4 linked regions of the Homo sapiens genome follow. The protein of the gene in region 1 purifies or fractionates together with the protein of each later gene. This does not show direct contact. Each region holds a gene or a part of one and is shown in the gene's direction. Other genes may lie near its edges.

Region 1 (7,027 bases):
GTATTGGGATTACAGGCCTGAGCCACCGTGCGCAACCTATGATTTTGGTGGTGGTGTTTTTTGTTTTTCTGTTTTTTAAATATTCTTGAGTATATTTGTAAGCTTTAGATGACCTGTTTTAAGTTATTTAATCTATCAACACCATTATATCTGTTATTACGGCCACTGTTTCTGTTGATTACATTTTTTTTCCTGCCCATAGGGACTTTTTTTTTCATGCATAGTAATTTCTTATTGCTTGACATTGTGAATTTTGCTTTCTTGGGTACCGAACATCACTGTGTTCTTTCAAAGTCTATTGGGCATTATTCTGGTCACAGAAAACTGAGGATCAGTTTGCTCCTCTGATACTAGCTTTTATCTACATATAACTATATACCTTGTGTTCAGTTGCCTTATTCAGGGGCTCATTTAGTTAACTACTAAAGTTATAGTGGTTGACTTCTGATGGTAACTCGCCAGCACCCTGGCATGCGTTCTGTCCACTGTGGGAAGGGGAACATGCAGATCTCCCAGCCCTGAGTGGTCCACAATCTAGTCTCTCCTTCCCTGGGTGGCTTCTTCTCAGGCACCTAGAGTCAGTCTCAGCAGACACTGGACATGTCTTCTGCAAGGATCCAGAGTCCTCCAGGCAGCTGCTTCTCCCAGTCTCTGCCCTGCACTTGGCCTCTGGGAGTTCCTGCCTGTGGTTCTCAACAGAGACTACAGAGCTCTACAGGGTCCTCTGCCCCTGCTGTAGCTGGAGGCTGTCCTTACGCAGTGAGCTGAGGCCACAGCTAGTCTCACTGCATGTGCTTGGCGGCGGGGACAGGAGTGATTCATTCATCAGGTAGAGGAGGAACCCTTTACTCTGGGAAAATCTGTGCCTGGGTTGGGGAAGGACAAATGAGCCCTGTGTGAATACTGACTACTCCCTGGAGCCCACAGTCTGGTGGAGCAGGTGACAGCAGGGACCTAAATAACTATCAGGAAGCATGAGGTCCCACCACTGTCACCTCCCCCACCTCCAGAGTGGCTGTGCTGGCTCCAGAGATGTCATCCCTCCATATTTGACTGACAGAGGGAGGCTGTGCAGTCCCAAGGCTCCAGGTCATGGTAGTTTGGCCAGGATAATATGGTTTGCTTAAAATCAACATTGAGGGTAATGATCGTACTAATCAGAGCATGTGTTTAAAGTTCTGTGTTTTAAGCACTTTCCATACATATTAACACTTTCAGTTCACACAACAACCTATGCAGGAACTGTGATTATCCTGGGCAGTTTTAAGGATGTGGGTGACTCAGAGAGGAAAGAAGAGGTTACTCGGGTTAATTTTTGACGAGAAATATTAGCAGGTTTTATGCTCAAACTTGGTGTAAAGCAAGGAGCCTGAATCACAGGTGGGTGAGTCACAAGACAGGGAAACCCCGCCAATGGCTCATGTCCGGGAGGAGGCAGGGTCCCTAGAATTCAATGGGACAAGAACTGAAATAAGCCAAACCCCTGACCTCCCTTCTTCTTGTTTTCCTTCTCTCTCTTAACCATGCCCATGGACACCCCCATGAGCCCATTTCTGTGGCCCAACACAGCTGTGCATCTCTGGCCACACGCCCATTCTCCCTCAATCAGAGAGGCCCACGGACGGCACAGCCTCGTCCTGCACAGCAGAAAGAGTGAATGGTGATGAATGGATCTATATTATTTCAACTCTCCTACATTTTGTAATCATATTACAATATTAATTCAGCAGTACCTCTCTTGTTTTTACTCCCCTCCCCCATTACACTGGATTCCTGTCTGTCTGGGATTCTGTCTGTGTGCACTCTTTCCTCTATGTCCACTACTGTCCCTGCCACCGATGGCATTTGTCACCTCTGCCTGGGCAGCCCCTCCAGACTCTTTGCAAGTTCATGGACTTTGGGGTTAATGATGGCTGTGCCTCAGCTCCTGTGAATGGAAACTGTGCTAAGGAAAGGAAGGGCCGTGCCATGTTCCCGATACTCCACGGCTCCTTGCATATGCGGTCGCCAGGCGCCTACATGCCTTCCATGAATGAATGAATGAGTAACGTGGATTCTAGGAAGCTGCACTAACCCAGACGTTGTGTCCTCAGCCTGCTCATAGAGTGTGTTAAACGTGAGAGGTGGGGAGTGTGGCAGGCAGGCTGAGGACAGAACAGAGGATCTGAATAGAGTACGGAGGATCACCCAAGTCCAGAGTCACCAAGGCCATTGTCAAGTTTTCCCCGGGGACATCCCTCATCAGATCCACCCATTAAAGATCATTGTTCACCCAGTGGAGAGTGGACTAGGTGGGTGCACTCAGGTGTGGCCTGGACAGCATTCGGGATGGGTCCTAGTGGTTAGGGTGAGGGTCAGGTTGCATTATCGTGAAGGAGGCAAGTGGCAGCTGAGGCAGATCTGAGGGAAATGATGATAACGCAGGCCGGTGATGCAATGGGTTTGGTAAGAAGAGGAAAGAGGTTTGTGGTGGATTCTAGTGTTTCTAATCTGAGACTTGGGTGAGGTCATTACCAAATAAGAAAGAGTAAATGGGCATAAATGGCTTTAAGAATTAGGAACCTGAATGTGCTATTGGAGACAGTATGGGCACGTCATTGCTCATAGACCTGCAGTACACAAAATGCTAAAAGATTTCAATCTGAATAGAGATGAAATGAAATGGAAACATGGATTTTTTTTTTTTTTTTTGAGACAGTTTCACTGTTGCTGCCCAGGCTGGAGTGCAATGGCGCAATCTCGGCTCACTGCAACCTCTGCCTCCTGGGTTCAAGCGATTCTCCTGCCTCAGCCTCCTGAACAGCTGGGATTACAGGCGCTTGCCACCACACCCAGCTAATTTTTGTATTTTTAGTAGAGACCGGGTTTCACCATGTTGGCCAGGCCAGTCTCAAACTACTGACCTCAGGAGATCCACCGCCTTGGCCTCCCAAAGTGCTGGGATTACAGGCATGAGCCACCTTGCCTGGCTGGGAACATGGATCTTAAGGAAAGAAGGAAGATCATCAGGAATAGAAATATGAATGCACATATAAAGAATGATTATTTCCTCTTAATTTCTTGAAAATATTCACTATCAAGTAATATAACACTTTGTAGGGTTTGTAACATATGAACATGCCTGAGACAACTATAGCAGAAAGAATGAGTAGTGGAGATGAATCAATCTGTATTATTTCAAGTCTCCTACATTTTATAATATTACCATATTAATTCTGCCATACAACTCAGTAATGAAAAGGAATGGAGTACTGATGCATATGAAAATATGACCGAATTTCAAAATAATTATGCTGAGTTAAAGAAACCAGACAGAAAAGCATATATAGTATCTGATTCCATCTATGATATTTATAGCCAGAAATGGTTTAATTAAAAAAGAAGAAGGATCTTAAATCAACGAGCTAAGTTTACAAATGTAGGAATTAGAAAAAGAATGAACCAAACCTAGAGTTAGCATTATAAAGGAAATAATTATTAGAAGAGAAATAAATAAAACAGAGAATAGAAAAACAGTAGAGGCCGGATGTGATGGCTCACGCCTATAATCCCAGCACTTTGCGAGGCCAAGACAGGAGGATTGCTTGAAGCCAGGAGTTTGAGACCAGCCTGGATATGGCAAAACCCTGTCTCTACAAAAAATATAAAAAGCAGCCTGGCCCGGGGGAGCACACCTGTGATCCCAGTTACTCGGGAGGCTGAGGTGGGAGGATCACTTGAGCCCCGGAGATGTAGGTTGCAGTGAGCCAAGATCACATCACTGCACTCCAGCCTGGGCAACAGAGTGAGACTCTGTCTCAAAGAAAGAAAGAAAAAGAAAAAAGAAAAACCATAGAGAAAATCCACAAAACCAACATTGATTCTTCAATACTATTAATTAAACTGACAGAATTCACTAGTGAATTCTAACAAGCTTTTAATGAAGAGCTAATACCACTACTTCTCAAACTCTTTCAAAAACTTGAAGAGAAGGGAACCTTTCTTGACTCTTTCTGTAAGGCCAGCATTGCTCTGATACCCAAGCAGATAAAGATATTACAAGAAAATAAAGCTATATCCCAGTATCCCTAACTGATGCAAAAATCTTCAACAAAATACTATCAGAGAGAATTCAACAGTACCTTAGATGGATTATACACCATGACCAAGTTGGATTTATTTCCGGAATGCAAGAATGTTTGAACAAATGAAAACTGAACAATGTAATACATTGCATTAATAGAATGAAGGGGGAAAAAGACACATGATCATCTGAGTTGATACAGGGAAAGCCTCTGATAAAATTCAAAGCCCTTTCATGATGAAAACACCCAGCAAACTAAGAATAGAAGAAAACTTCCACAACATCATAAAAGCCATGTAAGAAAACCCCACAGCTAACATCATACTCAGTGTTGAAAGACGGAAAGCTTTTCCTTTAAGATTAAGAACAACATAAGGATATCTACCCACCTTTGCCACTCAGCATAGTACTGGAAGTTCTAGCCAAAACAGGCAAGAAAAAGAAATAAGAGCATCTGGACTGTAAAGGAAAAAGTAAAATAATCTGTGTTTTCAGATGATATGATCTTACTGGTAAAAAATCCAAAAGATTTCACAAAAAATTAAACTGCCAAAAATAAAATAATATTAAATTTTTAAAATTTTGAAATTTATTGTTGTTCAGTAAAAGACAGTACAGATTGCAATCTGGGAGATTTCAAACCAAGTGGTAAGAAACTTGCCTTACAGCAGGTATAGTACAGGCTATAAAGGAGGATGTATTTTGACAATTTCATGATTGACTTATAAATTTATATTCTTTTTAAAGGCAATCAGAGCTGTTTAAGCTGATTTTTCTATAGCTGCTTGATTTAACTTCACTGAACCATATTATGTCATGATGAAGGTGTAAAACTTATATTTTGTGGGATTTTTTATGATTATAGCTAATGTTTCAGGGATATCAGGATGTCTTAAGTTTTGGCTACATGGTTATGGGTAATTGCCGTGGGGTATATCTAAACTGTGTTTTTAATTTTTATTTAGTAGTACTAAAATGAATTCATCAAAGAAGCGGAATACAAAATCAACTGGAAAAGTCAATTGCATTTCTATACACTACCAATGAACAATTCAAAAAAAGAAATTAGGAAAAAATCCATTTACAATAGTATCAAAAATAATAAAATAGGAGTAAACTCACCAAGGAGGTGGAAGACTAGTACAATGAAAACTATAAAACATTACTGAAAGTAATTAAAGAATACAAAAATAAATGGAAAGATATGCCATGATTATGAATTATAAGACTAATTATGTCAACATTTCCTAAAGTGATCTATACATTCAATGTAATCTCTATCAAAATCCCAAGGACATTTTTGCAGAAATGAAAAAATGTATCCTAAAATTCATATGGAATTTCTAGGGACCAGAATATCCAAAACAATCTTGAAAATGAATAAAAATGTAGTAGGATTCACACTTCCTGATTTTCAAAACTTCCTACAAAGCTGCAGTAATCAAAACAGGATGGTACTGACATAAAAGCAGATAAATCGATCAGTGGAATAGAATAGAGGAGCCAGAAATAAACACTCACATATATGGCCAAATTATTTTTCACAAGGATGCCAAGACTGTTGAATGGAGGAAAGGGCCGTCTTTTCAATGAAGGGGGCTAGGAGAACCGGATATCCACATTCAAAAGAATGAAGTGAACCTTAGCCTAACATTGTATTTAAAAAATAGCTAAAAACAAATAAAAGATGTAAATGTAAGTGCTAAAGCTATAGAACTCTTGAAAGAAAATATAGGATAAAAATTCTGTGACATTGGATTTGGCAATAATTTCTTGGATGTGACACCATGGACATAGGCAACAAAAGAAAAAATAAACATTTTGGACTTCTTGAAAATCAGTAACTCTTGTGAATCAAAAGATACTATTAACTGGATAAAAAGGCAAAACCCACAGAATGAGAGAAAATATTTTAAGTTATATATCTGATAAGGGCTTAATATCTAAAATATATAAAGAATTCCTACGATCTAACAAAACAAAAACAACCCAGTTAAAAATGGGCAACTGATTTTTATAAACATTTCTCCAAAGCAAATATACAAATGGTCAATAAGTATATGAAAAGATACTTTAATCACTAATCATTAGGGAACTGCTGGTCAAAACGACAGAGATACCATCCTATACCCATCAGGATGACTATTATAAAAAACACACACAGGCCGGGTGCGGTGGCTCATGCCTGTAATCCCCACACTTTGGGAGGCCAAGGCAGGCGGATCACGAGGTCAGGAGATTGAGACCATCCTGGCTAACATGGTGAGACCCCGTCTCCACTAAAAAAAAAATACAAAAAAATTAGCCCGGCGTGGTGGCAGGCGCCTGTAGTCCCAGCTACTTGGGAGGATGAGGCAGGAGAATGGCGTGAACCCAGGAGGCGGAGCTTGCAGTGAGCTGAGATGGCACCACTGCACTCCAGCCTGGGCGACAGAACGAGACTCTGTCTCAAAAAACAAAAACAACACACACACACAATAAGCATTAGCAAATTTGTAGAGAAGTTGGAACCCTCGTGCCCTGTTAATGGGAATGTAAAATGGTGCAGCCACTATGGAAAACAGTATGATAGTTCCTCAAAAGTAAAAACAGGATTAGCAGATGATCCATCATTCCCACTTCTAGGTATACGTCCAAAAGAATTGAAAGCATGGTTTCAAACAGATATTTGTACACCCACGTTTATAGCAGTATTATTCACAATAGCCAAAAAGTGGAAGAAACTCAAGTTGGACAGATCAATAGATAATGTGGTATATTCATACAATGGAGTATTACTCAGCCTTGAAAAGGAAGGAAATACTGGCACATGCTACACAATGGATGAACATTAAAGACATGCTCAGTAAAATGCCATTCATAAAAGGACAAATGAAATAGGATTCCACTTGAGGTACCTAATGTAGTCAAATTCATAAAAACCAACAGTAGAATGTTGGATGCCAGCGGTTGTAAGGAGGGAAG
Region 2 (7,027 bases), on another chromosome or scaffold:
CAATCTCAGCTCACCGCAATCTCCACCTCCCAGGTTCAAGCGATTCTCCTGCCTCAGCCTCCTGAGTAACTGGGATTACAGGCATGTGCCACCATGCCCAGCTAATTTTGTATTTTTAGTAGAGACAAGGTTTCACCATGTCGGCCAGGCTGGTCTCGATCTCCTGACCTTGTGATCTGCCCACCTCAGCCTCCCAAAGTGCTACGATTACAGGCGTCAGCCATCATGCCTGGCTTATTCTCTCCATTTTCAAGGTGAGGAAGCTGAGCAGTGAACTACACTCCTACCTTCTCTAGTACTGATTGAGCTGGGATTCAAAAGCTGGACTCCAAAACCTATGCTTTTAACTACTTTGCCTCAATATAATTTCCATGAAGGTGAGGGAGTTTATCTATCTCCTACTATGGGTCTCCAGTACCTGGAAGAATACCTGCTATGTAGGTGTTCAATAAATAATTGTTGGGTGAATGAATGAAGGAATAAGCTCTCCCAGTGTCAGTGTGTTTCTAAAAGCCATTCCTTTTTATCTTTAGAGTTTAGCAGACTCTCTTCTACCTATCTTCCCTTCTCTCCTCAAAAAACCAGACTTTTATCCAAAAAGCATGCAAGTCCCCCAAGTATTTAAAGCTTTATTTCTTTGTTTGTCCAGTAAATGTTCGTTGAGGGCCTACTATGTGCAAAGCACCATGCTTGGCCCTGTGTGAAGCAAATATTAAGGCAATGAGGTGGAGTCTGATCTCAGAGCTGTGTTGTGCATGAAATAAGGTTATTCTTTGGTAGTTCTTTCTTGAGAAGAATTCTTATGGAGTTCAGTAACCTCTTCTTGAGGCAGAAGTAAATGCTCAGGGATTTGGGAACTAATTATCTCAGTTTGGTAGAATTGAAAAATAAGTCTTTGGTGTTGTGTCATCTGTGTCAGTGACAGCAAAGCTGGACCTGTGCTAGGCCCTGGTGGGTCATCTTTAAGCACTGGACTTTTATCTTGTTAGGAATATAGAAGCAAGCGTCTCACATCTCTGACAGATGGGCTTTACGGCTTGGCCTAAAGCTCTGGTTGTTTTTAAGGCCCTTGAATAAAAATAAAAGACGATGTTTGCAGATTTTAAGAGGAAGTTTTTTTTTTTTTTGAGACAGAGTCTCGCTCTGTCACCCAGGCTACTGGAGTGCAATGGCGTTATCTTGGCTCACTGCAACCTCTGTCTCCCGGGTTCAAGCGATTCTCCGCCTCAGCCTCCTGAGTAGCTGGGATTACAGGCACCCGCCATCATGCCCGGCTAATTTTTGTATTTTTGTAGAGATGGGGTTTCACCATGTTGGCCAGGCTAGTCTTGAACTCCTGACCTCAGGTGATCCGCCCGCCTCGGCCTCCCAAAGTGCTGGGATCACGGGGATGAGCCATCGCACCTGGCCAAGAGGAAGTATTTTTTTTTTCTATCCTGCTCTTTCTGAAAAGCTTGAACATTTTTCTGTACTTTCCTTTTCTTTTTTGAGACAGGGTCTTGCTCTATCACCCAGAATGGAGCACAGGGGTACAATCATGGCTCACTGCAGCCTTCACCTCCCGGGCTCAAGCAATCCTCTCACCTCACCCTCCCAAGTAGCTGGAACTACACACAGGCGCCACCACATCCATCTAATTTTTAAAATATTCTGTAGAGACAGGGTCTCACTATGTTGCCCAGGCTGGTCTCAAACTTCTGGGCTGAAGCAATCCTCCCACTTCAGCCTCCTGAGTGGCTGGGACTACAGGCACATGCTATCATGTCTGGCTAACTTTGTTTTTTATAGAGACAGGGTCTTTTGCTGTATTTCCCAGGGCGGTCTTGAACTCCTGGCTTCAAGTGATCTTCCTGCCTTGGCCTCCCAAAGCACTGGGATTATGGCCATGAGCCACCACGTAATCTTTGTTTTATGCGTATTTATAAGCTTTGCTTCCCCAACAAGATTATAAGCTCTTTGATTGAAGTACATCATATATTTGATATGTATTCTCTTGTCCAAGTGTTTCTGTAGGCAATAAGGGGAACTTTGTAAAACAAGAGTTTTCCGGTCAAGTAAATTTGAGAAGCGCTGCCTAATCTCTTCCCCCTCAGAGATTTGCAATGCATATTGACCTATTAAAGGCTCTGAGAATTCTTCCTGCGAAGAAACCTATTTTAGCCTTGTCCACCTTGCATTTCCCAAACACGTTTGACCTCAGAACTCCCTTTTTCACTAAGAATGTTTTGCCCATCTTATGTTTTACCCATGTGCTCTATAGCAGTTAACACTGGGCTTATTAAAGGTACTCAATATGTGATTGTAAATTAACTGGTGAAGCATTCCCTCATTCTTGTTTATTTTATACATTTATTTAATGAAGCCCTTTTCATAGAAATTGTCAAGATAAATGTATCCTCATTTAGATCAAAACAAATTCTAAATTAATGAAGTCATGACATTTTACTGTATTTTGGTTTTTTTGGTTTATCTGTGAAGTCCTCAAACCTGTGAGTAGTGCTGACCCTAGCCTTGAATGAACAGCCCTGTACTAACTGCAAGGCCAGAAGAACCCCTGCCCTTCCCCTCCCCACCCCCCCACATCATTTCCAGAAGTTCTAAAGAACAGTTGAAATTTACGGAGATCAGACTGGGTTGAGTGTGGGATTTCCAGGGTGGGTTCTAGAAGGAGAAGTGGGTCTTCTGTAGTTTGTTGAAATTTTATTTTCCAAACCCAGCCCCCAAGTTTTTCTTCCTCTATTTATGTGCAAGGACAAAACAGTTACTGTCCTACCTACATAGGATATGGACTCTGTCTGCTCTGAGCCCATTTTAGTTTAGAATATAGAGACCTCCCTCCAGGTCCTAAGAGAGAGATTCCATGAGAGATGTGCAACACCATAAGGTTGGTGATTTGTACTTTGAAATGGCTGCCTTTATTTCCTTTAAAGTCAATATCTTATATTTGAATAAACACAGTTTGCAAAGCATCTTTACAGAAATCTCATTGGATCCTCACGGTCACCTTTTTTCTGAGACAGAGTCTCACTCTTTCACCCAGGCTGGAGTGCAGTGGAGCGATCTTGGCTCCTCCACTTCCTGGGCTCGAGTGATCCTCCTTCCTTAGCCTCCCAAGTAGCTGGGACCACAGATGCGTGCCACCATGCCCAGCCAATTTTTGTATTTTTGGTAGAGATGGGGTTTCGCCATGTTGCCCAGGCTGGTCTCAAACTCTGCAGCTCAAGCAATCCACCCGCCTTGGCCTCCCAAAGTGCTGGGATTACAGGTATGAGCCACTGTACCCTGCCCTCACAGTCACCTTTTGAAGAACCTCCTGCTCAAGAGATCCTCCTGCCTCAGCCTCCTGAGTAGCTGTGATGACTACAGGCTTGTACTACCATGCCTGGCTAGTTTTTTTATTTTTTGTAGAGACGGGGTTCCCTGTGATGCCCAGGGTGGTCTCAAACTCCTGAGCTCAAGCCATCCTCCCACCTCAGCCTCCCAAAGTGCTGGGATTGTAGGTGTGAGCCACTGCACCTGGCCAAGCATTAGTTTTAATCTTGTTTTATAGATGAATAAACTGGGGCTGACTCAAACTGACTCAAAGTCACACTGTCATTACCTTTTTGATCCTGTACGTTAGACTGGGCTGTATGCATGTTCTTGCTGGCGCAATAAAGTTGCAAGTGCCAGCTAACAGCCCTTCCCACTCCACCTCACCACCTCATAGAGGAAAATTGTGACGTTAATGGGAAATGTCAGCGGTAATGTCTTCAGGCTGGGCCTGTGGAGTGACTCCCTTGCCACAGGATATTTAAGCAATGCTGTGTCTTGTCTGAGGCTCAGACCTGCTATTCTTATTGGCACTTGGGACCTGCATGGTTTTTGGCTTCACCTCCAGCTTTAGCCATTTTTCTTCTGTTCTTTTAGGTAAGGATTTTCTGCCCCAGACCTCAGATTCCCATTTCCTTCCTAGCTTCTCTGCTGTTATAGCTCAGTCTCTTCCAAGACCATGCAAGATTCAGACCCTAGTAGGAGGAGATGGAGGAACTAGGACTTAAACCCACATCTTGTGATTCCAAGGCTGGTTCCTCTTTTGCCCTGCACCACACAGCTGTCTGCTCACAGTCATGTGACAGGGGCTTCCCCAGCCAGAACCTCCAGGGAGCACAAATAAAGGAAAGAGCTGGAAGGCACAGTACAGCATTTGTTCTGTCCAAGCCTTACATATCAGCATGGGCAGGGAGAATGTGGTGAAGTTTTCTTTCAAGGACTTTGTTTGATAAGGAAGGACATTTATCAGTGAAGAGAGGTTTTGAGGGAAGTGAACCAATCTTGAGATAAGTACACAAAAGAGCTTTGAGTCTGGTGTTTCCCTGTTTGCTTCTGCCCCCTGGAGGAGCAAATACTCCATGATTAGAGACGTGTGAGTCCTTTGGAATAGAATAGCAGTGATGGAACTGGAGTCCTAGTCCAGGTTCTCTCCTTGTTCAGCCTGGATTCAGCACTGGGTATCGAAACAAGCCTGCACCCTCAGAGGAGATGGCTAGGGGACAGTGCGTCCAGGCCTCTTCTACCACACAGAGTTTTCTTTTTTTTATAAAGGGTATACACATTTAAAATTTAATGATACTCCCAAATTGCTCTTCAAAAAGGCTGTGCAAAATTACAGTCCTGATAACAGCTACCCAGAGATCCTGTAACGGCATTTGCCCTCATCATTATTATTATTATTATTATTATTATTATTATTATTTGAATTTGAGACGGAGTTCTGCTCTGTTGCCCAGGCTGGAGTGCAGTGGCGCAATCTTGGCTCACTGCAACCTCTGCCTCCCGGGTTCAAGCAATTCTCCTGTCTCAGCCTCCCTAGTAGCTGGGATTACAGGTGAGCACCACCACGCCTGGCTAATTTTTGTATTTTTAGTAGAGACGGGGTTTCACCATATTGGCCAGACTGGTCTCGAACTCCTGACCTCAGGTGATCTGCCCGTCTCGGCCTCCCAAAGTGCTAGGATTACAGATGTGAGCCACTGGGGCTGGTTGCCCTCACTATTTAATGGGTTATTTGCAACCTGTGAATCATGTCTCCTATTTCCTTGTTAATGATGCTTATTGATTATAGACTTAGGAATATCAGCACCTCCTTTGTAGCTCTTCATTCTTACATGATATAATAATTAATTTTTTTTTTTGAGACAGAGTCTCACTCTGTTGCCCAGGCTGGAGTGCAGTGTCACAATGTTGGCTCACTGCAACCTCCACCTCCTGGGTTCAAGCGATTCTCCTGCCTCAGCCTCCTGAGTAGCTGGGACTACAGGTGCGTGCCACTACACCTGACTAATTTTTGTATTTTTAGTAGAGACAGGGTTTCGCCATGTTGGCTAGGCTGGTCTTGAACTCCTGACCTCAGGTAATCTGCCCGCCTCAGCCTCCCAAAGTGCTGGGATTACAGGTGAGCCACTGCGCCCAGCCAATAATTCATTGTTTAATCCTTAGTTGTGGGCCAAGCAAAGGAGAAAAGTAAGAAGCCTTTTCCTTTTACCGATAGGAAAGGTCAAAGGACTTACCTGGTGAATTATTTACCTAAAAATGTATACAAATCACTCCAAAATTTAGTGGCTAAAAACAACAGTACTAATTTAATTATATCTTCACAGTTACTAATTTAATTATATCCTCACCTGTGGGTGAGGAATTTAGGAGCAGCTTAGCTGGGCTGTTCTGGCCCAGAGTCTAGTGAAGTTGTGGTCAGTTGTCAGCTGGGTCATCTGAATGCTTGATTGGGATTGGAGGCTCCACTTCTATGGTGGTCACTCACATGACTGAGAAGTTGGTGCTAGCTGTTGGCAGGAAGCCTGTTCTTCATGTGGGCCTCTCTGAGGGACTGCTTGAGTACTTTCATGATGTGGTGGTGGGCTTCTCCCAGAGTGAGCCACTCAGAAGAGAGAAAGATTGTGAGGTCTGGACTTCAATAAGAAGATTGTTGAAGAAAAAAAGGTTTTGTCCCCCCTTGGTTTGATTGGACTAGAGTGGGCTCAGTCTGTGCCTGTGGCTGGCATCAGGCAGGAACAGTGGTATAGCAGGGTATAGACCATATTTAGGGACCTAAAATCACATCTTTCATGATTCATGTGGTTCTTGTTCCAACTGCCCAGGACTCAGGCACATCAAAATATGACACAAAAGCAGAAGCTTTTCATAATGGAGATTAGACCATGTCTAGGATTCCTACCCAGTCCTCTTGAGCTCTCCTCACTCCAGTGTTGTTTTCCGTGTTTGTTTTTTGTTTTCCCCAGAGCTTCTTCGAGACACCTTCACTTCCCTGGGCTATGAAGTCCAGAAATTCTTGCATCTCAGTATGCATGGTATATCCCAGATTCTTGGCCAATTTGCCTGTATGCCCGAGCACCGAGACTACGACAGCTTTGTGTGTGTCCTGGTGAGCCGAGGAGGCTCCCAGAGTGTGTATGGTGTGGATCAGACTCACTCAGGGCTCCCCCTGCATCACATCAGGAGGATGTTCATGGGAGATTCATGCCCTTATCTAGCAGGGAAGCCAAAGATGTTTTTTATTCAGAACTATGTGGTGTCAGAGGGCCAGCTGGAGGACAGCAGCCTCTTGGAGGTGGATGGGCCAGCGATGAAGAATGTGGAATTCAAGGCTCAGAAGCGAGGGCTGTGCACAGTTCACCGAGAAGCTGACTTCTTCTGGAGCCTGTGTACTGCGGACATGTCCCTGCTGGAGCAGTCTCACAGCTCACCATCCCTGTACCTGCAGTGCCTCTCCCAGAAACTGAGACAAGAAAGGTGAGCCCCCAGGAGGTGGTCAGTTCCGGACCACCTGCTTATTTTCGTGCCACCAGGATGGGAATTACCACTGTGCCACATTTGCTGCCCATCTCTTCCGGGAGGAAAAGAGATTTTCCCTCCTGCATTGGGCTTGCCCTAGGACTACAGTATAGACCCGGCATGATTTATAAATACTTTGTAGTTAGTTAGTTTGTAGTTTGAATACTTTTCTTTAAAATTAAGAAATTTTCAGCCT
Region 3 (7,027 bases), about 75 Mb from region 1:
AGTATGCAGATTATGTTTTCCCCTCTAGATCTCTGTCGAAAAAATGCAAAGCTTTTAGAGAAGTTGCATGTACAATGAAAACCAATATTATTTTTCTCATTGACAATAATTTGTTCTGCCAGATCTAGGAAAAGCAGTTTAAAAAAACCAATAGTTTGGGGTTCATTTTTATAAAATTATTTCTTATTAAATATTGAGTAGGTATAAAAGAATATTTATAAAATATTTATTACCCGTAGCAAATAATGGTGCTACAAGCAGTTGTGTACCTGCCAAGTTGGTTTAAGATATTTTTGTCCGGGTGCGGTGACTTATGCCTATAATCCCATAGTGACAATGCCCAGGCAATTGAAGCTGCAATGAGCCATGATCACACCACTGCAACTCCAGATTGGGAGACCAAACAAGACTCCTTATTTACCAGAGATTGACTAAAGGAAAAAAGAAGTTGAAGGCCAGGCATGGTGGCTCACGCCTGTAATCCCAGAACTTTGGGAGGCCGAGGCTGGCAGATCATTTGAAGTCAGGAGTTCGAGACCAGCCTGGCCAACATGGTGAAACCCCCGTCTCTACTAAAAATATAAAAATTGGCATGGTGGAGCACACCTGTAGTCTCAGGTACCTAGGGGGTGAGGTGGGAGACTTGCTTGAGCCTGGGAGACTTGCTTGAGCCTGGGATGCGGAATTTGCATTGAGCCAATGTTGTCCCACTGCATTCCAGCCTGGGCGACAGAGTGAGACTCTGTCTCAAAAAAATAAAAAGAAAAAAGAAAAAATAAATAAAATAGAATGAACCAGATGATATGGCTGTCTTAGAGCAAGCAAGAGAGTGGGACAAGGTGAGGCGAGATTAGAGAGGTAGACTGCTCTGGAATAAAGAGGAACATCAAGGCCTTGATAAGAAATGAAGGTTTTATTTTTATTTATTTATTTTTTTGAGATGGAGTCTCGCTCTATCGCCCAGACCGGAGTGCAGTGGCGCGATCTCGGCTCACTGCAAGCTCTGTCTCCCAGGTTCATGCCATTCTTCTGCCTCAGCCTCCCAAGTAGCTGGGTCAGCAGGTGCCCACCACCACGCCCGGCTAATTTTTTGTATTTTTAGTACACATGGGGTTTCACTGTGTTAACCAGGATGGTCTCAATCTCCTGACCTCGTGATCGCCCTCCTCGGCCTCCCAAAGTGTTGGGATTATAGGTGTGAGCCACCGCACCTGGCCGGAGTTTTTATTTTAAATAAGATCGGAAGCTATGAAGGCTTTCATTAGAGCTTTGAGGCACACATGAGTTTACAAAATAGAAGTTAGACACCTATATATCTATAAAGTAATACCTAATTCATTATTTATATAATCCAGTGGACCAGAAGAACAAACATTAAAAAAATCTGTAAACCAATATCCCTTTTTCTATTTTGAAATAATCTCTTAGTATAAAGTATTTACTAACTTTATGCTAGTTTATTTACAAAATGCCTTTGAGAAGAGACTGAAAGTATTCAGTGGATCCACTACTGATTGTCTTTTTTAAAGAAATTCTTTTTAATCTTTCGGCAGACATGTGCATTGCCATTGCGATTTCTCTTCTCATGATCCTGATATGTGCTATGGCTACTTACGGAGCGTACAAGGTAAGCCGCTTGCAGTAAGATGCTGGCCTTTTCCTTGGTCTCTTACATGTGTAATCTGTGCTGCTGTCTATAGTGAGAAGTGACTTTCCAGTTTTCTGTTAAGAATCTCTGTTTAAATCTCTCGTTTGTATTATGTGGTACTAGGAAAACCAATATTATACTGGAAATTTTTTTTTTTTTGGGAAGACGGGGTCTCACTCTGTCACACAGGCTGGAGTAGAGTGGTGTGATCTTAGCTCACTGCAATCTCCGCCTCCCAAGTTCAAGTGATTCTCCCACCTCAGCCTCCAGAGTAGCTGGGACTACAGGTGTGTGCCACCACACCTTGCTGATTTTTGTATTTTTTAGTAGAGACGTGATTTCACCATGTTGGGCAGGCTAGTCTCGAACTCCTGACCTTAAGTGATCCACCCACCTCAGCCTCCCAAAATGCTGGGATTACAGGTGTGAGACACCACACACAGCCAGTCCTGGAAATGTTCACTGAAGCTTATTTGTTGACTGCTTATATTTGGCATACTGGTTTCCACCATGACCTGGGTTAATGAATTCCAATTTTTCCATTTCCTTTCAGATTAATAAAATACTTTGAATTTAAGAAAAATATTGTTTTATAATATTGAACACATTAACTTTCTATTTTCTGTTCTGTTTAGCAACGCGCAGCCTGGATCATCCCATTCTTCTGTTACCAGATCTTTGACTTTGCCCTGAACATGTTGGTTGCAATCACTGTGCTTATTTATCCAAACTCCATTCAGGAATACATACGGCAACTGGTACGTGGACCTCTTACTGCTCCTTTTCATTAATTCTTTTCATTAGGGAAGCTGGTTAAGTAAGGGATGTGTAGAGATACACAGACATTAATTTCAGGATTTTTAGCTTGCAGCTGAGTTACTCATAGGAAATTTCTTTTTTCTTTTTTTTGAGGTGGAGTCTTGCTCTCGTCACCCAGGCTGGAGTGCAGTGATGCGATCTCGGCTCACTGCAACCTCTGCCTCCAGGGTCTCAGCCTCCCAGCTAGCTGGGATTATAGGCATGTACCAACATACCTGGCTAATTTTGTATTTTTAGTAGAGATGGGGTTTCACTGTGTTGGTCAGGCTGGTCTTGAACTCCTGACCTCAGGTGATCCACCCATCTTGGCCTCCCAAAGTGCTGGGATTATGGGTGTGAGCCACTGTGCCTGGCCTGATAAAGTTTTGAGGGCCGGGGTTATGATTGGTGGCAGTGATGGTGGTGGTTGATGTGCCTACCTAAATTATAGTCCAGTTACTAATAGTCGTATTTGGTAAAATGTAGTTTTCTCAGTTATCAACAAAGGATAGCTTTTTGCCTTTGCTAGTGTGTTGAAAGTGGGACTCTGCTCAAAAACAAACAAAATAATTAGCTGGGAGAGGTGGCACACGCCTGTGACCCTAGCCACTCGGGAGGCTGAGGCAGGAGAATTGCTTGAACCTGGGAGGTGGAGGCTGCAGTGAGCCAAGATCACGCCACTGCACTCCAGCCTGGGCAATAGAGTGAGATCTCATCTAAAAAAAAAGAAAAATCAAAAGAAAGTGGAAAGAAAGTGGAACACTGCTGTATACTAGCTCCCAAATTTGTTTGACCATAGAATCCCTTTCTCAAGCATCATTTTGGGACTAGTTTACGGTTAAATGTCCTTTGTGACCATATGAGTGAATATTGGTGGCAGGGTATTAAGAAGCTTATAATGGCTATGAGGTTGGAATAACTTTATTTATTTTTGGGACAGGGTCTCTGTCACCCAGGCTGGAGTGCAGTGGTGTGATTATGGCTTGCTGCAGCGTTGACCTCCCAGGCTCCCGTGATCCTCCCATCTCAACCTCTTGAGTAGCTGGCACTATAGGCATGCACCACCATGCCCACCTAATTTTTCTTTTTGTATCTTATGTAGAGATGGGGTTTCACCATGTTGCCCAGGCTTGTCTCAAACTCCTAGACTCAAGTGATCCTCCAGCCTTGGCCTCCCAAAGTGCTGGCATTATAGATGTGACTCACTGTACCAGGCCAACTTTACTTTTTTTTTTTTTTTTTTTTGAGACAGAGTCTCACTCTATCACCTAGGCTGGAGTGCAGTGTTGTGATCTCGGCTCACTGCAACCTCCGCCTCCCTGGGTTCAAGCCATTCTCCTGCCTCAGTCTCCTGAGTAGCTGGGATTACAGGCACCCGCTACCAAGCCTGGCTAATTTTTTGTATTTTTAGTAGAGATGGGGTTTCACCATCTTTTCCAGGCTGGTCTCAAACATTTAGCCTCAGAGGATCCACCCTCATCGGCCTCCCAGAGTGCTAGGAATACAGGCGCCCACTACCATGCCTGGCTAATTTTTGTATTTTTTTTTTAGTAGAGGTGGGGTTTTGCCATGTTGACCAGGCTGGTCTCGAACTCCTGACCTCAGGTGATCCGCCCACCTTGGCCTCCCAAAGTGCTGAGATTACAGGCGTGAGCCACCATGCCCAGCCTGCAACCTCAATCTTCTGGGCTCAAGTGATCCTTCCACCTTAGCCTCCCAAGTAGTTTGGACTACAGACATGCACCACCATGCCCGGCTAAATTTGTATTTTTAGTAGAGATGGGGTTTGACTATGTTGTCCAGGCTGGTCTCAAACACCTGCACTCAAGCAATCTGCCTGCCTCAGCCTCCCAAAGTGCTGAAATTACAGGCATGAGCCACTGTGCTTGGCCAAGTTATTTTATTAATAAAAGAGTAAAGTTGCATGATCTGATCACAAAGAATGACGATTTTATTTCTTAGATATTTTGTCCCAAGTGAAAGGAGACTGAAAACCATTAGGTGGTGTTCACCCTGGTGAGCAGGAGCCAAGCCCATGAGTCATGGGCCTTCTCCATGTTCTTCCTCAACATTGGAAACAACTTTGTTTTGGAATATTGCTCGTGAGGAATCCAAACACATAGTGTTGAATGGTGAAGGGAGATAAAAGATGAGATAGCACAGTAGGCTGCCTTCCCATTCACTTGCCTAGGCCAGTGATGTAGGCGTTGATCAATGCTGTGTGAGTGTTCTGTGGGGAAAGTCCGGCAACTCCCTCTAACCATAGTAGCAGACTTTGATCCTCCTGAAAAGGTTCCCTTTGACCTGGTTGTTAAGCATTGTGGATGGTAGTGCTTGATTATTTCCCCCCACCCTGGAAGTACTTGCTAGTATAAGAGAATATGCTGTCTTGGGAGAAGTACCATCAACAAAAATGCTCTTTGCAAAGAAGACCTCATTTTAGTAGGTTTCTGTCCCTTGCCCTGCATATGCCCTTTAGAATGGTTCAGAACTTTTGAGACATGGTCTGGCTCTGTCGCCCGGGCGGCTGGAGTGCAGTGGCATGATCTCGCTCACTGCAACCTCCACCACCAGGGCTCAAGTGATTTGCTCACCCCAGCCTCCCAAGTAGCTGAGCTGGGCGACAGAGAGAAACTCCATCTCAAAAAAGAAAAAAAAAAAAAAAAGGAATGGTTCAGAACTTGCAGAGAATACAAATTTCAGAGATCCCTGGATATACAAAATGTCCCTGGATACCGATCACTGACGTCTTTTATATGGTAAGAGGGCAGAGTCAGGCTAGAAATTTTGTATTGGTTCTAAATAATAGCTGTCTGCTTTAATCAGTTGCTTTCTGATAAGCATGTCTGAATTGGTGCCCAAGGAATACTGTCTGGAATGATTAATGAGATTTGCTAATGAGGCCCTTTTCTTTTGCAGCCTCCTAATTTTCCCTACAGAGATGATGTCATGTCAGTGAATCCTACCTGTTTGGTCCTTATTATTCTTCTGTTTATTAGCATTATCTTGACTTTTAAGGTAAGCATGAAGATTTTACTTATAGTCTAAAAATATTAAGTGTATTCCTGAATACCAAATAAGTAAACAAACTTTGGTCAGTTTATTGTCTTTCTTTGGACATCCAAATTGCTTTTTGATTTCCTAAGATTACAATTCTTTATGCTGTCTATGTTGGAGGTAAACACTAATCAAAATTCCACAGTTTGATCAAGGAGTCCAAAATATATTTGGACAGAGATAAGTTAACATAATGTTATACATTACATAGTATATGATATTGCAACGTCTGTTACAAGGTCTGTGTAATGGATATTCTTTTGTAATTTTTTGCTAAAAGTGTAATATTTTCTGAATATTGTTCTATCTCAATCCATTATATGAATATCATTATTTAATAAATTACTTGATGAGCATTGAGACATTTTTTACTTTTTCACTTAATAGGGCTGTAGTGAATATATTTAAGTACATCCTTATATTTATGCATTTATCTCAAGATAAATTTCCTTTTTTTTTTTTTTTTTTTTTTTTTGAGATGGAGTCTCGCTCTGTCGCCCAGGTTGGAGTGCAGTGGCGCAACCTCGGCTTACTGCGAGCTTCGCCTCCCGGCTTCACGCCATTATCTTGCCTCAGCCTCCCCAGTAGGTGGGACCACAGATACCCGCCACCATGCCCAGCAAATTTTTTTGTATTTTTAGTAGAGATGGGGTTTCACTGTGTTAGCCAGGATGGTCTCGATCTCCTGACCTCATGATCCGCCCACCTCGGCCTCCCAAAGCTGGGATTACAGGCATGAGCCACTGTGCCCGGCTTCAAGATAAATTTCTTAAAATCAGGGTGTTCATGGTTGGAAAGCCTTTGATAGGTTGTCAAATTGATGTCCCCCAAAGTTAAATGACTTCTACTTCCTGCAGCAGTGCCTCACCCTTATCAATCAATTGCTGCAAATTCTTTTTCATCTTGGTCAATCTGTTTATAAAACCATCATTATAACTTGTGCTTATGAGCTACTAATGGGTAGAAAACTCTCATGGCTCTTTATGCTTTCAACTTTTTTCTTTTTTTATTTATTTTTCTTTCTTTCTTTTTTTTTTTTTTTTGAGGTAGGGTCTCTCCCTGTAGTCTAGGCTGCCTCCTGCCTTGGTTTCCCAAAGTTTTGGGATTACAGGTGTGAACCACTGCACCCAGCATACTTTGAATTTTTGAATCTCAATGCCTTTCATTGTCTTAATTTTGGCATAAAATTATGTCATTCTTCAAAAATCATGCCTCAGTAAACTTGGGAAAGCTGCATTGAGGCAGAAAATTCATATAGGTACTGTGATGAAAAGGAGTAGAAAGAAAGTGGTTCATTGGAAACCAGTTGGCCAGGTGAAATGGCTCACACCTGTGATCCCAACACTTTGGGAGGCTGAAGTGAGAAGATTGTTTGAGCTGGGAGTGTGAGGCTGTAGTGTGCTATGATAGCAGCACTGTACTTCAGCCTGGGTGACAGAGTGAGACCCCGTCTTGTTGTTGTTGTTGTTGAGACAGAGTCTCACTCTGTCACCTAGGCTGGAGTGCAGAGGTGCGATCTCGGCT
Region 4 (6,906 bases), on another chromosome or scaffold:
AGACTTTTTTTGTTTTTGTTTTTGTTTTTGTTTTTTTCTGAGACGGAGTCTCGCTCTATCGCCCAGGCTGGAGTGCAGTGGCGCGATCTCGGCTCACTGCAAGCTCCACCTCCTGGGTTTACGCTATTCTCCTGCCTCAGCCTCTCGAGTAGCTGGGACTACAGGCGCCCACCACCATGCCCGGCTAATATTTTGTATTTTTAGTAGAGATGGGCTTCACCGTGTTAGCCAGGATGGTCTTGATCTCCTGACCTCGTGATCCACCCGCCTCGGCCTCCTAAAGTGCTGGGATTACAGGCGTAAGCCACTGCACCTGGCCAAGATTTTTTTTTTTTAAGAAACAGATTTCACGTGGTGGTGGGCGCCTTAATCCCAGCTACTTGAGAGGCTGAGGAGGGAGAATCGCTTGAACCCCGGAAACAGAGGTTGCAGTGAGCCGAGATCGCATCACTGCACTCCAGCCTGGGTGACAAGAGCGAAACTCCGTCTCAAAAAAAAAAAAAAAATAATAATAATAATTTAAAAAAAGATTTCCTTCCTTCTCTCCTCCCTCCTTTTTTCCTTCCTTCCTTTCTTTTTCTCTCTTTCTTTCTTTCTCTCTCTCTTCTTTCTTTGTCTCTTTCCTTTCTTTTCTTTCTAATTTGGCACACAAACACTTTATTTAAATGCATATCTCAATTCCTGTGCGGCTGGCAAATAAAATAAAGGAGCAGATCATGGCACAGCATTCTCATGGACCAAGTGGTCGAACCCAACATCCAAGACCCAGTGAGCAGCCAAGCTCAGTGCAACCTCCAGGCCTCTCGCTCTGACTCCAACAGGGTGAGCACATAGCCCTTGCGCATGGGGTCTTTTACACTGTGGATGATGGAGTGGCTTGTGTCTTCCATAAATTCCCGCATGCACTGTCCCTGAGAGCTGGTTCTGCCCAGGACCTTGGTGACCCTGGCTAGCTAGATAGGCTGCACATGGCTGGTGTCTGTGATGGCGATGCAGCAGCAGTTGGGCAGAGAGAAGAAATAGATTTCTTTACAAAGCAAGTAATTATTTAAAATATTCACGGTAATTCAGTATTCATTAGCTGTACTCAGTAAATATTTATTGAACAGCTACTATGTGCTAGGTACTCGCACAAAGTACACTGGTTACAAATTCTTGAAAAATAGTAGCGGTAGCAAAAAGCAACAAAACTTTCAGCCCTGCCCTTATGGAACTCACATTCTAGTGGGCAGGGAGAAAATAACCAGAAAAAGGCCCAGCACAATGGCTCATGCCTGTAATCCTAGCACTTTGGGAGGCCGAAGTGAGCTGATCAGTTGAGACCAGTCTGAGCAATGTGGCAAAACCCCATCTCTACAAAAAATACAAAAAGTACTCAGGCTTGGTGGTCAGCCGAGAGAGAGAGAGAGAAGGAAAGAAAGAGAGAGAGAAAGAAAGAAAAGAAAGAAAGAGGCCAGGCTCGGTGGCTCAGGCCTGTAATCCCAGCACTTTGCGAGGCTGAGGCGGGCGGATCACGAGGTCAGGAGTTCAAGACCAGCCTGGCCAATATGGTGAAACCCTGTCTCCACTAAAGAAAAATACAAAAATTAGCCAGGCATGATGGCGCGGGCCTGTAGTTCCAGTTACTCGGGAGGCTGAGGCAGAAGAATCGCTTGAACCTGGGAGGTGGAGGTTGCAGTGAGCCGAGATCGCGCCACTGCACTCCAGCCTGGGTGACAGAGCAAGACTGTCAAAAAAAAAAAGAAAGAAAGAAAATAACCAGAAAAAAAAAGTAAAAATATAGGACATTTTAGGTGAAGGTAAGCACTAGGAAAGAAAGAAAAAAAAAAGCAGGGAAGGGATGTTGGCCGGGGCGGGCGGAGGGGGGGATTTATACAGTTTGGCCAAGGAAGACATTATAATAATGCACTTATTCCTTAGTTTAGAACATGTAGCATTTCACCTGTACCGAGAGATGCCTGATATATTTCATACATGACCAAAATAATAATGTAAGAGGCAATAAAAAAGTGCAGGGTTTTAGGGTTCTAGATATCAGCACATTTTAAGATTAAATGCATGGTAAGAACTTTTGTACTATATACACCTAGTTTGAACTTAAATTTAATAACAAACTCTTTGGAGTCTCTCTCTCTCTCTTTTTTTTTTTTTCCCAAACATAGCTTCCCAAGGAGCAGAAGGGCTGAATTTTCTCTAGTTCCAGGAAGACCGCAAGGCTACTGTGCTCTGGATGTCTCGTTTTTATTTTTTTATTTTTTTATTCTCCAGATCTCAAGACGGTGTCTGGCACATACCATTCAATACAAGTTTGGTACCTGGAACCCACTGAATATGCATGTCCAGTAACTATTAACTACATGTGTTGGTGCAAGGGAGAAGGTCGAGCAACCGGATCTGCTCCATCATAGCCCGTCTCAGTCGCTTCATTCAAGTCAGCGGGGTGAGGTTGAGGGGATTCCAACTTCACAAGGGCAGATTTCTCATGGACTCTCTTTCTCTGGTTGTACTGGAACACTTTCTGGCGTTATTCCTCTGCTGGGACAGCATGAACTTATGAAACGTGGTCCTGTCTGCCCTAAAGCCAGGGTCTCACCGACAAGGACAGCGATGCTGGGGCGAGAAATAAAGTTCGTCCTGGGCCTGCGTACGGTACAGCGCCCTTGGGAAGCCCTTGTGGAGTTAAGGGTGATGCCCACTTCTTTGTCTCCCTCATTCTGTTTCGGTGGCTCTCTCGTTCCCAGTTCCAAGCTGCCCACTTGTTAGAGGAGCCACTGCTTACCAGGCATCTGGTTTAATAAAACATGGCTAGAGCGACTGCATGTTAAAGTGAGTAACTAGGCACTCACAAGGCACCTATAAGGTTAATGCTAAAGGTCTGAAAATAGCCGCATTCTAAGCTGACCAACAATTATAATTACACAATATTTATGGCCATACAGGACATCTCCCACCAAGTCTGCGGAATTGTCCAGATGTCCTGAGTTTTTTTTTTTTTTTTAGACAAGGTCTCACTTTGTCGCCCAGGCTAGGCTGGAGGGCAGTGTGGTGCGATCTCAGCTCACTGCAACCTCCGCCTCCCAGGTTCAAGTAGTTCTCCTGCCTCAGCCTCCTGAGTAGCTGGGACTACAGGCATGCACCACCACGCCTGGCTACTGGCTTTTTTTTTTTTTTTTTTTTTTTTAAATAGATGGCATCTCAGTATGTTGCCCAGGCTGGTCTCGAACTCCTGGGCTCAAGGGAGACTCCTGTCCGGCCTCCCACAGTGCTGGGATTACAGACGTGGCCACCGAGCCCGGCCCAGCCCTCTACTCAGAGATAACGTCAATGCGCAGGCTTAGGTTGAAGGATTAATGGTCATTAGTGCACCAACAGCCCCTACCTTTAGTGGGCACATCAGCACATTCCACGATTAATCACAGCTCCTCACAGCTGCCTCTAAGTAGTGACACTACCGAAGGACGGGAGTTCCTCCTCCTGCAGTCTGAGGACTTGCACTCTCTAACGGAGTAGATTCCAATAAACTTGCTTCCTTCACTGCGCTCTGTGACTCGCCTCCAATTCTTCCCTGAAGTAGACCCAAGAACCCTCTCTTGGGGTCTGGATCGAGACCCCTTTTTCCAGCAACACAACCCGCGGGGCCGCCTCCCGCCCACCCTCAGGTGCAGGAGACCCCGGGCCATGCATCCTTCCGGGCAGGAAAATGTCAGCCAGCGCTCGCCGGCCGCTTTCCTCCCCCGCCTCCCGAAGTTCTCGCCCGGTAGCTCCCCGACTGGCTCTCGCGCCGGACAAAGGCGCACGCTGATTGGCCGGAGGGCCGTAGTCATGCAGGACGCGCGACTCTAGGGGCGGGACCAGACAAGGGGTGACTGCCGCGCGGCGCGGGGGAGGAGACCTTCATCTGTTCACGCGGTAGCGCGGATTGCGGTTCGCGGCGCGCGCCACCGGGGAAGGAGCGGTGGGCCGAGGGGTTGGAGGTGGGGCCCCAGGAGGACCTCGGGCTGTGGGCCGGGAGAGCGGAGTCGGGGAGTGGGGCGGGGGAGCGAGGTGGCGCCGGGGAGCCTGGGATATGGCGCGGCCAGACGATGAGGAGGGGGCGGCGGTGGCGCCCGGACACCCGCTCGCGAAAGGATACCTCCCGTTGCCGAGGGGCGCGCCCGTTGGGAAGGAGAGCGTGGAGCTGCAGAACGGGCCCAAAGCGGGCACCTTCCCGGTGAATGGGGCCCCCCGGGACAGCCTCGCTGCCGCCTCGGGAGTTCTGGGCGGGCCTCAGACTCCACTGGCCCCAGAAGAGGAGACCCAGGCCCGGCTGCTGCCTGCGGGCGCGGGAGCTGAGACCCCGGGGGCCGAGAGCAGCCCGCTGCCCCTTACGGCGCTCTCCCCGCGGCGCTTCGTGGTGCTCCTGATCTTCAGCCTGTACTCGCTGGTCAACGCCTTTCAGTGGATCCAGTACAGCATCATTAGCAACGTCTTCGAGGGCTTCTACGGTGTCACCTTGCTGCACATCGACTGGCTGTCCATGGTGTACATGCTGGCCTACGTGCCCCTCATCTTCCCGGCCACCTGGCTGCTGGACACCAGAGGCCTGCGGCTCACCGCCCTGCTGGGCTCCGGCCTCAACTGCCTGGGTGCCTGGATCAAGTGCGGCAGTGTGCAGCAGCATCTCTTCTGGGTCACCATGTTGGGCCAGTGCTTGTGCTCGGTGGCCCAGGTGTTCATCCTGGGCTTGCCCTCCCGCATCGCCTCAGTGTGGTTTGGGCCCAAAGAGGTGTCCACAGCTTGTGCCACCGCCGTGCTGGGCAATCAGGTAAGTACTGGAGTGGTAGGTGAAAGTCAGATCCTTAAAAGACCGGAAAAAGTCATAGGCCGTGAGAACTATGGCCTGTATGGATGAACTGCCCCAGGAGGTATTTGTCTATAAAAGAGGAGATGAAGCCGTTGAATAGGAGGCCGTCTTGGATTGAAGTGGGCTATAAATTTCTTTGTAAGGACAAAATTTTCCAAACGACCTTGTCATCTTGCTTTGAAAATTACCTATAAAATAATTAACTGGGCCGGGCGCGGTGGCACACACCTGTAATCCCAGCACTTTGGGAGGCCGAGGTGGGTGGATCACTTCAAGTCAGGAGTTCCAGACCAGCCTGGGCAACATGGGGAAACCCCGTCTCTGTTAAAAATACAGAAATTAGCCAGGCCTGCTTGCGGGTATCTGTAGTCCCAGCAACTCAGGAGGCTGAGGCAGGAGAATCTCTTGAACCCGGGAGGTGGAGGTTGCAGTGAGCGGAGATTGCACCTTTGCACTCCAGCTTGGGTGACAGAGTGAGACTCTGTCTCAAATAATAATAATAAACTGTAACCATAATAATAATAATAATAATTAACTGTATTGGCTTGTGTATGCCTAACATGGAAAATTTGTCAATGCAGTAACGAACAAGACTTGGGGTATTATTTTTGTCACCAGTGTATTTGTGAAAGGAAGGTATTGGGTTCTGGGAAGATTGTTTCCATTTTGAGAGGTCATTGTGAACAGCTCCCTTTTAATTTCATATATTAGCAGTCAGCACAGTTCCTGGCACATAAGGGACACATAAATGACTGCTAACCAAAAGTTCTGGGCTGGGCGTGGTGGCTCACGCCTGTAATCTCAGCACTTTGGGAGGCTGAGGCAGGCGGATCACTTGAGGCCAGGAGTCTGAGACCAGCCTGGCCAACATGGCAAAACCAAATACACAAAAATTAGTGGGGCATGGTGTGGTGCATGCCTGTAATTCCAGCTACTCAGGTGGCCAAGGCATGAGAATCTACATGCTTATTGCTTTATAGTCATTTCCCTTATCTAAAAGTACAGAAGATGGAGTAGGTTGAACTATAGTTGTTTGTCCAAAATAATTTATGACTGATACTTGAGTTGGTTGCATCTGCAGGTTTGGACAGAAGCTATTATAAAGTTTTTTGTGTGTGTGGTTTTTTTTTTTTTTTTTTGTAGAAATGGGGTTTCTCCATGTTGCTCATGCTTGTCTCGAACTGCTGAGCTCAAGCTCTCTGCCCACCTCTGCCTCCCGAAGTGCTGGGATTACAGGTGTGAACCACCACGCCCGGCCATGATTACATTTTCTTTGTCACACATCTCTCAGTTTAAATTCATTTTTAAATATTCAGTAGCATTTCTTGATCCCATTTAGAGTTGCCCAGTCACTCTCTTTACATTATTTTACTTTAATTCTCCTTATAGCACTCATCCCTGTCTCATATGTTATTGTTTACATGTTCATATGTTACTTACCTATTACTTTTCTCTTATCCCCACCATTAGATTGTAAGTTTCATGAAAATAGGAATGTGGTCTGAATGTACACAGCTGTATCACCAGCATTTATTACTCTCCATAAAACCATGTTGAATAAATAAAGGAGCTTCAGACTCATACAGATACTGGCCAGCTGGATAGTCTACTTGGATATCTCATGGGAACACACCACTCAAAATTGCTTTCTCCTTGCTCATTTCCCTTTATCTCTAATGCCACTGTCTTGGTTTGGGCCACCCACAGCTCTCACCTAGAGCTTGCTAACTGTCCTCCCTATCTGTAGCCCTTGCTGTCTTCCCTCTGTTCTCGCATTCATCCAGCGTGGTCTTTTACAATGTGCAAATCTGTTCCGGGCACATCCTTACCCCCTGCAGTGGCTTCCATTGTCCTTAGGATAAAATTCAAACACTCTAGTGTGACATATGGGACCCTCCAGATCTGCCTCCTGCCAGCCCTTCCACTTTATCTGTATGCACAACCCCTGTCCCCACAGACATATGCTTTCTCTGCTCTGTGCAGAACTATGCCTACTTATAGTTTCTCACAAGGTCGTGCCCTTTCCCTCCTGGCCTTGTATGTAATGTCCTGTTGGCTTGGAA

The links.
Region 2: the proteins of TNFRSF10B (region 1) and CFLAR purify together in Homo sapiens (affinity purification with western blotting, with the first as the bait; 5 studies listed by BioGRID). This does not show direct contact.
Region 3: the proteins of TNFRSF10B (region 1) and LAPTM4B purify together in Homo sapiens (affinity purification with mass spectrometry; 3 studies listed by BioGRID and IntAct, with this or other methods). This does not show direct contact.
Region 4: the proteins of TNFRSF10B (region 1) and FLVCR1 purify together in Homo sapiens (affinity purification with mass spectrometry; 4 studies listed by BioGRID and IntAct, with this or other methods). This does not show direct contact.

Annotation. Positions count from the first base shown.
Region 1 is NC_000008.11:23,059,011-23,066,037, reverse strand, and holds part of TNFRSF10B (tumor necrosis factor receptor superfamily member 10B isoform 1 precursor), read left to right. Parts: intron 1-7,027. UniProt on the Homo sapiens protein: Receptor for the cytotoxic ligand TNFSF10/TRAIL. The adapter molecule FADD recruits caspase-8 to the activated receptor.
Region 2 is NC_000002.12:201,154,154-201,161,180, forward strand, and holds part of CFLAR (CASP8 and FADD-like apoptosis regulator), read left to right. Parts: exon of another isoform or gene 1-254; intron 255-3,601; exon of another isoform or gene 3,602-3,639; intron 3,640-6,278; coding exon 6,279-6,789; intron 6,790-7,027. UniProt on the Homo sapiens protein: Apoptosis regulator protein which may function as a crucial link between cell survival and cell death pathways in mammalian cells. Acts as an inhibitor of TNFRSF6 mediated apoptosis.
Region 3 is NC_000008.11:97,813,775-97,820,801, forward strand, and holds part of LAPTM4B (lysosomal-associated transmembrane protein 4B), read left to right. Parts: intron 1-1,553; coding exon 1,554-1,627; intron 1,628-2,283; coding exon 2,284-2,406; intron 2,407-5,365; coding exon 5,366-5,464; intron 5,465-7,027. UniProt on the Homo sapiens protein: Required for optimal lysosomal function. Blocks EGF-stimulated EGFR intraluminal sorting and degradation.
Region 4 is NC_000001.11:212,854,387-212,861,292, forward strand, and holds the start of FLVCR1 (choline/ethanolamine transporter FLVCR1), read left to right. Parts: upstream 1-3,888; 5' UTR 3,889-4,066; coding exon 4,067-4,804; intron 4,805-6,906.